2 separate regions of the Homo sapiens genome follow, and region 2 is linked to region 1. Evidence: fine-mapped expression QTL. A gene starts in region 1. The other region holds a variant in brackets. All regions are shown on one strand. Distances are from middle to middle.

Region 1 (5,383 bases):
GTATGGTCTTCAAAATGTAGCCTTGCTCCTGAGCAGCAGCACTTCAGTATACACTTGGCTTTGGAATGATCTACGCTCCACCCCAATTTGTTTTCTTCATTTTAAAAACTAATCTGAGGCTCTAGTGGGGACCAACGTATACTTGGATATTCCCCAGCCATTAGGCATTGGAAATTTATCAAGGAAAGCTGGCACCGCTCATTTGTTTCTGTGTTAGCTGTATGAGATTTTTATATGGGATTTTAAAATACAGTTTATTGCTCTTCTTCCTACCTCTCTTATTAGCCGGTGGCCACCCCCATCTTTTAACTTTATTCAGGCTAATTTTACCTTATCCTTCAGGTCACAACATAATGGTAACTTCCTTAAAAAAGAATTTCCCTAAATCCAGACACAGTGGCTCACACCTGTAATCCCAGCATTTTGGGAGCCTGAGGCAGGAGAATCATTTGAGCCCAGGAGTTTGAGACCAGCCTGAGCAACACAGCAAGACCCCAGCTCTATAAAAAATTTAAAAACTAGCCGGGCATAAGGCCAGGCGAGGTGGCTCACTCCTGTAATCCCAGCACTTTGGGAGGCCAAGGTGGGCGGATTGCTTGAGCTCAGGAGTTTGAGATCAGCCTGGGCAACATGGTGAAACCCCATCTCCACAAAAGACACAAAAAAATGCCTGTGGTCCCAGCTACTTGGGAGGCTGAGGTGGAAGGATGGCTTGCGCCCGGGAGGTGGAGGTTGCAGTCAGCTGAGATTGTGCCACTGTACCTCAGCTAGGTGATACAGTCAGACCCTGTCTCAAAAAAAAAAAAAAAAATTAGCCAGGCATGGTGGTGTACACCTGTAGTCCCAGCTATTTGGGAGGCTGGGGCAAGAGGATCATTTGGGCCCAGGAGTTTGAGGCTGCAGTAAGCTATGATCATGCCTCTGCACTGCAGCCTAGACGACAGAGTGAGACCCTGTCTCAAAAGAAAGAAAAAAGAAAAGAAAGACTTTCTTTAAAATGTAGACTAAGTTAAATTCCTGTTTATACTCCTTTAATCTCTTCCCATTGCTCTCCTTGGGAATGATGATCACGATTTCAGTACTTGTGTAATTCCTTGTTTAACAGCTATCTCCCTCAGTAGACAGTAAGCTCCGTGAGGGCAGGGGCCATGTCTGTCTTGCTCAGGTCTTTATCTCTGTGCCTGGTCATGTCAGTCACAGACAGTATCACTTGATAATATTCACCCAATTAATAAATATATTTAGTCTCCAAATGACTAACTAGCAAAGTCTTCAGAAGGATACGTAGGGTGGTGGGTGCTGTGATTGTGAAACTTGCCCAGATCCCTCTCAGGAACAGAAGACTGGGTTCTGTCCCCTTCCTGATGCTAGGAGGGCTGCCAGTAGACACCCTCAACCGTCAGCGTTCCTCTGGGGAATGCCTCCATGAAAGAAATGGACAGCCCCAAAATCATGACAGTTGGTATTCAATGACTAATCAGTGCTGGGCTTTAAGACCCAGCCCCTCATACCAACTCAAGACACCTTTACAAGGCCATCCCAACTCCAGAGCGCCCCTTGGGAGCCTTTACTGGGATGGCATCACAGATCAACTTCTTCCTCCGCTCTGCTTCCTCCACCTCCCCTTCACAGACGTTTATTCCAAGAGCACTCCCTAATCAATCAATGCCTTATACCTTAATCTCGACCTCAGAGTTTACTGCCAGGGTAACCCAGCCTGTGACAAGTACCACAAAAATGTTTACAAACTGGATATCATATTTTGTCCTACTCCATAGACGCCTAAACGGTAAAGATCAGTTATTTATCCTTGCATCCTTACAACGACTAGAAGGTGTCTTTCATATAGTGGACATCAGAAACACATCAAAGGAAATATTCTCCCTAAACTTAGTCTAGATTGAGCTAAATTCTTCTGATTCAAAGTGTGGTCCTGTTGAAAGGGGCACCAGCATCCCCTGTGCATTTTGTCCGAAATACAAAATCTCAAGACCCAACCTGAATTAGAACTACTGAATCCAAATCTGCATTTTATCAAGATCCCCAGATGGTTCACATGTATGTTGAAGTTTGAGAAGTACTGAGCTAAGAGATTTATTAATACAAGTAAAATGATCTGGCTGATAATACCTCTAGTTTATATAGTGTCTTTATAAGGATTTTCCCTCTTTAAAAATTTTCCTTAACACTAGTAATCATGCAGTCTTTCACTCAACAAATACTAATTGAGTGCCAAGTAAAGATGTCAGCTCTACGGAGCTTACATTTTAGAAGGAGAAGAAAACAAATATCAAGGTGTATATTATAGTGTACAGCAAGGTGAAAAGTGCCATGAAAAAACAGTAGGGCGGGGTAAGGAGGAGGAGAAGGTGTGTTGCAATTTAAAATTTTTAACAAAAGTTCATGATACTCAGAGAATTGAAACAGGTGAGATCATTAGACATTCGCATGTTTGAGCACAAGCGCTGAAGGACTTAGCAATGTGGCTGCAGTGGAATAGGAGAGATGCAAAATAACAGACAAACCCAGAGAGGTAAGAGAGCAGACCTCTTCATGAGAGGCTGCCTGATAAACTGATTTGACACTGAATTGCTGAGAAGGTAATGCAAATAGTTTTTTTCTCCAAGAACAAAGTAGTTCTTGGTCAAGCCGATTTGATTTGGGCTGTGGGAATCTGCACAAACCATTTCACTAGCTAAGTCTCAGGTTCCTCAAATGAAAAAGCAGGGACTGGAAATGGCTTTTGAAGTCTCATTCTCTTCTAAAAATGTCAGGCTCCAAGACAACCAGGTGAAGTCCAAGAGTTAGTAAAATAAGGATTGTGGCTCGGCTGTGGCCTAATGCAAACTTGCACAACCCCAGGAAACCGAAAAAAACTGGAAGAAGAATTGCAGAATGGGGTGCCAGGTTGAAAGACCTTAACCTTTGCACTCAAATTCCTCCCACACCCAGAAGTCCAGGTCCCGACCGCACGACGCCGTGCTCACTGCTGGGTGCTGCGCCTGAGTCCGCCTCCTGCGGCTTCCCGGACTTGACCCCGCCCACGCCCTGGTCCCGCCTCCTGCCGACGCCGGCACAGACCCCGGTGACGGAAGTGACGTAAGGCCGGGGCTGGAGGGCAGTGCTGGGCTGGTCCCGCAGGCGCTCGGGGTTGGAGCCAGCGACCGTCGGTAGCAGCATGGCTCTCCTCTTTCTCCTACCCCTTGTCATGCAGGGTGTGAGCAGGGCTGAGATGGGCACCGCGGATCTGGGGCCGTCCTCAGGTACCGTCGTTCGCGGCAGGGCTGCGGCCGGGTCGGGACGAGAGGGAGGGAGGGATCCGCCCCAGCCGGGAAGCCCCGCCCCGCTTCTCCGAGGTCGCCCTAGCCCGGGACCCCTGCGTCGGGCCCTGAGCGGGCGACGGGGACGCGAGGTGGGGTCGCGAGACTGGGGCTCCGTGGTTTGAACTCGTCGGTTGCCTTTCTCCTGCCTCTTCCCTGGTTGCCGCCACAACAAATCACGCCGCTTGTTTTTCCGACTCTTGTAATCCACTTTTAAATACGATTATGCGCTGCAGAAGGACGTTGCTGGTCAATGTGGGACAGCGTGGTCTCAAAGATTATAATATCGTCTTCTTACTGTACCTTTTTTTATGGTTAGATACGCAGATACTCACTAGTATGCTACGGTTGCCTGCAGTGTTCAGTGCAGTGACAGGCTGTACAGGTTCATGACCTAAGAGCAGTAGGCTGTGTCATCTGGGTTTGTCTGGGTTTCTACTGCCCGAAGAAATTGCCTAAGGGGACATTTCTCCATTTCTCAGAACGGATCTCCATCGTTAAGTGACGCATGACTGTGAGTGTCCTGATCAGCATGTGGCATCGTGGTCTCAGTTCGTGGCTTAAATACTTCTTTCTTAGCGGGGGTGGGGGGGGGGACTCAAAGTGCTTAGGGTAGGAAAGTATGCATTATGTCGCCAGCTGAGAAGTAAGTGGCAGCTGAGAAGTAAGTGGCAGTCCGTCTTAGGTCTCAGTCTGGAAGTGGTGGATTGCCGGCACTCACTAGCAGATTTGGCAGTAGGTCTCTTCGTACGGGTTTGTTCTTCGGAGCATTTTATTTCCACCTGCTTATTGACATTTCCTAGAAAACAAATGTTGAGGGTGGCTTTTCTGAAGTGCAGAGTAATTGTGATTACGAGCTCCAGAGAAAACAGTAAACCTTTTCAATTCAGTTTTCTTTTTTTTATTATGATTTATGATTCATAGGGACTTTGAAAGGTCCACGTTTTGGTTCTGTGTTCACAACAATCTTCTGGAGTAGGCGTTATTTGTCTCTCTCTTTATGGACGAGAAATTGAGTTACGGAGAGGCCTGCCCAACTGGCAGAGAGGTCATAGCCACTCAGTGGGGAGCTGCTCAATTTGGCTCCAGAGTCCAAGTTCTTAACTGCTCTTCTAGGCTCTAGTCAGTCATCCACATGGGCAGTTGCAGTACTTTGCGGTAAGAGCTTGCACTTAGGCACAGACTAGTGGAAAGCAAGGCGGGGTGCTTGTCTCTTTTAGGGAAGTCAGTGAAGACTTCACAAAGGTGACCCCAGTGTTGGAACCAGAGGTGCAGAGACTGAGGTGCAGAGGTGTGATAGCATGTTGAATTCGTGGAATATTAAGCGTTCTATTGTAAAGTGTGTGTGAGAGCTTACAAGGGGAGGAGATAGGTTAGGTGGAGAAGTAGGAACCAAATAATGAATTGCCATATTATGTGTACCAGCAAGAAACCTAGCTTTATTAACTTAAGCAAAAAGAGGAATTTATTGTCTCAGAAAAACCAGAGTTAAACAGAAAATTATAGATGCCAGCTGGGTCTCAAGAGGCTAGAACCAGGAACCCAAACTGCTAGGACTCTCCATTTCTTATTTCTGTCTGGGTATTGACAGCTTTCCACACTTGGCAGGAATCATGGATGCTGACAGCTTCTGAGTTTTGACATCTTGCAGCCTCCTCCATTCTAACAAAATGCCAGGGAAAGGCTCTGATTTGCCCAGCTAGGTTCAGGTGCCAGCTTGCATGGGAAGGACATTCTCGTAGAGGGTTGGGTTGGGTTACCAGAAGAAGCGGAATGGCGTGCCTGAAGTACAGGTGTTGAGCCAACAAAATAATACACCCACTATGCCTTGCTGAAGTCAGTCATTATTTACTAATGCTGACATCATTGGATTATCAATTACAAAGGGAAATGATTTTATGCAGGATCAGACATGCCATTTAGAAAGACCAGTCATCTTATAAAATAGTTTGAGGGTAAACACAAGGCCCATTAGGAGGCTGCTGCTTAAGTTGGAGTCGATAAGTAGTTTAAGTGGAGAAGAGGACAGTTAGCAGAACATTTAGAAGGAAGAGTTAGTAGGC
Region 2 (5,383 bases), 25 kb after region 1:
ATGTTACCCAAGGATTTCTTGGAATTACTAAGAGGATAGAAATATTCAGAAATTAATATGAATCTGTGAATTAATGGACCAAAAAAAATGAAATACAATTTACATGAGTAGCAAATCACATTTCTTTGGTTTCTGGAAAGATATTTCTCTTCACTTAAAAATGCAAATTACAAATGAGATACTATCAGTGAAAAAAGTAGTGGTGTGGTTTGCAGTGGAACTGGTATAGTCACTGATTTTAGGGTAATGTCTTGTAAATTGCTTTTCAAACTGATACCCCATACATATCACATTCCACAAAAGTAATATCCTTCAACAGACTTTGATCTCTCTTGTGGGAAAATTACAAAAAAAAAAAAAAAACTACATGAACAATGCACACATTAGAATGGGAAAAGCAAAAATATGAAAATAATTGAAATAGCCAAGGAAGAGGTAATACTTACTACCCTCCAAAATGATTATACCAATGTGTACTCCCATCAAATGTGAATGAAGTACCTGTTTTTACACCCTAGCTAATTGACTGAAATAAGTCTTTAATCTCGGTAAAACACTTTACACATTAAATGCATTTGCATTTCTTTAGTAAATTTGAGCATGTTTTTATATCTTATTTATAGTTTCATGCCAACTCATCTTGTTCTTTGTCCATTTTTTTATGGGCTGTTTATATCTTTCTTACTACCCTTTATCTGCCCTGAGTTACAGATTTATTTTATAATTTCCTGCCTTTTGACTTACCACACAGATGTTTAAGTTGTTTATAAAGTCAAATTTATTTATTTCCTTCTATTTTTAAAAAGCCCTTCCCCTTTCCCCAAAAGATAGAAGTTTTCACTCATGTTTTCTTCTGGTCTTTGGTGATGATTGTTTTACATTTAATTCTTCTATCCATCTAGATTTTTTTCCTTTGAGGACAGAGATAGAGATCCAGCTTTATTTTTTTGTTTTAGTTTCCTGTGGCTGCCGTAATAAATTACCACAAACTTGGGTGGCTTAAAACAACAGAAATTTGTTATCTCACAGTTCAGAGGCTAGAGGTCTGAAATCAAGGTTTCAATAGGGCCAGATTCTATCTGAAAGCTCTAGGGGTGGAGGGCCCCTTCCTAGTTTCTAGTGATTGTTGTCAATCCTTGATATTCTCTGACTTATGGCTGCATTATTCCAATTTCTGCCTCTTGTCACCTGGCATTCTTCTCTGTATGTCTGTGTCCAGATCTTTATAAGGACACCAGTCAATTGGATTGATTAGTCCCACTCTAATCCAGTATGACCTCCTCTTAACTTGATTACATCTGTAAAGACACTTTCCAGTTAAGATCACATTCATAGGTACCAGGGGTTAGGACTTCAACACATCTTTTTGAGGATACAACTCAACTCATATATTTCCCTTAACAAATTAGTTATCCCAAATACTATTCATTAAATTATCTAACTTTTCTATGCTGATTTCAAATGTCACATTTATCACATGCCAAATTCTCAGCACTCCTGGAACAGTTTTGTTGTTCAGTCTTTTCCCGTCTATGTATCACACTTTTAATACACATTATACTGGGATATATTTTATGTTTTTTTGAGACAGAGTCTAGCTTTGTCACCCAGGCTGGAGTGCGGTGGCACGAACATGGCTTACTGCAGCCTCAACCTCTTGTAATCAAGCAACACTCCTGCCTCAGCCCCCCAAGTAGCTAGTACAGACGCTCATGACCATACCTGGCTAATGTTCTGTATTTTTTTGTAGAGACAGGGTTTTGCCATGTTGCTCAGGCTGGCTTCAAATGCCTGTGCTCAAGCAATCTGCCTACCTCAACCTCCCAAAGTGCTGCAATTACAGGCTGTTTTGACTTCTGAGGCTTTCCTGAATACTTTCAGCCAATGTTCATTGCTCATATTTCTTAGCAATAATTATTTATTTATTTACTTACTGTATTTTTAGTAGAGACAGGGTTTCACCATGTTAGCCAGGATGGTCTCGATCTCCTGACCTCATGATCTGCCTGCCTCGGCCTCCCAAAGTGCTGGGATTACAGGTGTGAGACACTGCGCCCTGCCAGCAATAATTATTTTTTAGGTGAACTATAACCTAAATTTTTTGGCCAAGTTTTCCCCCAAATTTTAAACTCCTTTGGGATTTATGTTGGCATTGTTTTGACTTTATAAAATGTTTAGAAATAACTAATATTTTCAAGGGTTGAATGTTCTGCAAGAATGGAGACTATTTCTGTCTTCAAGTCTTACATCCCTCATTAGAGGTTTACTTCATACAGGTGTAGAAAATTTACTAAGTGTATTCCTTGATATTTTATGTTTTTTGTTGCCTATGGGAATGTCATCTTGCATTGTGGCTCCTGAATGGCTGTCTATATGTACACGCACACACAAACTATTGTTACAAGTTGTTTTTGTATCTAGCCAACATCTAAACTGTTTTTTCTTCATGGTTTTTAGTTGATTGGTTTTCCCAGTGTACAAACGTGTTGTCTATAAATAAGAGTAATCCTGCCTTCTCATCACCAATATTATATTTTGTTTTTTATTCCCTTGTCCTCAAACTTTGATGAATTGGTATACGCTATTTTCCAAGAGTGATTGACCAAACCTGGTGGCTGTGGGCAAATCGCTTAGCCTCATGAGAGGGTTGGATTACATTCTCTCTATCTTTTGGCTCTTAAGAGTCATTGCTTCCATTTGTGTTAATTAGTAAGAGCATTGGCTGGGTGCGGTGGCTCATGCCTGTAATCCCAGCACTTTGGGAGGCCGAGGCAGGCGGATCACAAGGTCAAGAGATTGAGACCATCCTGGCCAACATGGTGAAACCCCGTCTCTACTAAAAACACAAGAATTAGCCATGCGTGATGGTGCATACCTGTAGTCCCAGCTACTGAGGAGGCTGAGGCAGGAATCGCTTGAATCCAGGAGGCAGAGGTTGCAGAGAGCTGAGATCACGCCACTGCACTCCAGCCTAGTGACAGAGCAAGGCTTCGTCTCAAAAAAAAAAAAAAAAAATTA[A/G]AGCATCATCTTTCCAACACAGTTTTGTGTCTAAACTTAATTTTTTTTCCCCTACTTATTTCTGGTTACCAGAAATTCACGTTATTGAACCATTATTCATGCCAAGTTAAATTGTCTTAAGATTACTGCCTGGGTCCAATTTAAGGTACCACTTCTTATGCCTGATAAGGATATAAGTGGATGACTTAGAAAATAAGTGCCAGCTTTGTTTGTATAGTCATTAGTTAGCTTCATTTATGAGATGCAATACTTACTCTACCTTCCACCGCCCTGCAAATAATAACTGGTCTCTCCATTGGTACTGTTACAGGGCTTTAAGGCTTAACCACGTACCCCAAGCTCTCTTTGCTCCAGTATCTCCTCTGCCCAGGAGATAAGTGTCAGATATTTAATTGAGAGGAAAGAGTGGCAGAGATATGTTCTGACTAGCACATTCCCAGAGTGTCCTTTCTAGAGCTAATTATAAAATGTTATAATACCCACAATGTATCTCCAAAATTAAATATTGAGCAGATATCTACCAATAAAAGGTGAGTAGTAGAGAACACTCACACATTGGCTTCTCAGACAGCCTTTTTAAGGAAAATTCGTGGAGCTGAACAACACAGGTATGTAGTCAGACTGGATGTCAGACCCCAGCCCTTGGGCTATGGGACATTTTTGCTACATAACCAGAGATGTGCCAGTCCCTTTCCTGGTATAAAAAGAGGTGAGGGCCAAAGGGGTCAGTAGGTACTTCACTCAATTCGAGGGGCCTCTGATCCATCTGAGGTGAGGCCACTTTTATTTCACTTCTGACACCATCTTGTGAACCTAAATAACAGCAAGAGTCTCTCTAAAAGAAAATAATATTTGAGAATGGGTCTTGCAATGAGAAAATAGTAAACTGCCTGTGTATTCAGGGAGATAAAGGAAGACAAAAGTTTTTAAAAGAAAAATGAAGATGACCTAATTGTATTGAGATAATTAACCTTTACTATGTAAGCCAAAAATAAAATTGTAAGCCCTCCCCACCTCAAACCATCTAAACGGACGCCCCCTCTTGGCCAAGCGCATTGTAAAGTTAACCTGAAAAACTAGTTCAGGCCATGATGGGAAGGGAGAGTTGGATATAACTCAGTATACCCTCCTCCCTTTTGGAACTTAGGAAAAGCTGACCAGCATTAAACTTACGTCTGATAAGAAACATTTTCAATCTATTCTCTCTGAAATCTGCTACCTGGAGGCTTCATCTGCCTGATAAACTTTGGTCTCTACAACCCCTTATCATCATAACCCAGGTATTTCTATTGATTCTGGGTCTTTGGGTAACAACATAACTCTTTCAACAAATTGCCAATCAGAAAATTCTTAAATCTACCTATAACCTGGAAGCCCCCACTTCAAGTTGTCCTGCTTTTCCAGATTGAACCAGTGTACATCTTACAGGTATTGATTGATGTATTATGCCTCCCTAAAAAGTATAAAAGCAAGTTGTACCCTGACCACCGTGGGCACATGTCATCAGGACCTCCTGAGGCTGTGTCATGGGCACATGTGTCATGGGCACATCCTTAACCTTGGCAAAATAAACCGTCTAAATGTATTGAGATCTGTCTCAGATACTTTTGAGTTCACAAATTGGTGATGAAGGGATTCTGAGTGGAGGTGCCCCTGACCTTTGATGAATCTATTGGTGCTTGGTACCAGCTTGAGCTATCCTTATGGCTCAAATCAGAAGGACAATTTGCTGAGGCCTGGGAGTTCCCCCTCCAGAGAATCCCTGATCTCTCAAAATTTGGTCGAGATCTAAAGCTTATTTTGCTCTACAACTCCTTTTCTGGAGTTTTACTTGATTCCAACAAGGAAAGCAAGTTTTTCTGCTTCCATGATGATGCATAGCAGGTAACTCATTTCTGGAGTTTCAGCTAGTTTCCGATAGGGAAGGCAAGAACCTTATGTCTGTTCCTGTGCACCTTTCCAGGTATTTTTCCTGCTTCTAAGATGGTAAAGAGCAATCTTGTGCCAGGGCTCTATTCCTAGGTAAGTAGCAAGAATTGGGATTTTTTTGTCTTGGAAATTCTCCTTAATGACTACAAGTTGAAATTGACAAGCAGCTGGTTTTAATTTCTCCTTACCGTTAGAGCACTCAGTAATCATATTGTTGGGGTTTTTGTTGTTCTGATCTTTCTCCCATAGGATTTGATCAACTATAACAGACTTGGTCAAATTCCAATGAGAATTCCAAATTAGGGGAAACAAGGCCTCTGAATTGGCTAAAATTCCTGGCAGCTGCACAAACAAAAACAAAAACATGTGCTTGGTTTCTGTGTTCACTTCCTTTCTTAAAAAAAAAAAACAAAAAACAGTTATTCTTCTGTTTACT

What was found. PIP is the estimated chance that this variant, and not a neighbour inherited with it, causes the effect.
Region 2: its variant is fine-mapped to the expression of IFNGR1 in T cells (TOPMed, PIP 0.98).

What each region holds. Positions count from the first base shown.
Region 1 is chr6:137,217,123-137,222,505 of GRCh38, reverse strand. It overlaps IFNGR1 (interferon gamma receptor 1), which reads left to right and starts at 3,121. Exons shown (of 7, transcript NM_000416.3): 1 at 3,121-3,263. The coding sequence starts at 3,179. RefSeq lists enhancers at 2,651-2,900, 2,751-3,481, 4,922-4,981 and silencers at 2,941-3,170, 3,211-3,430, 3,891-3,940.
Region 2 is chr6:137,191,732-137,197,114 of GRCh38, reverse strand. No RefSeq gene overlaps it. Among named protein-coding and RNA genes, the nearest start is that of IL22RA2, 21 kb to the right of the region's middle. The variant A/G (reference allele first, on the strand shown) is at 3,019.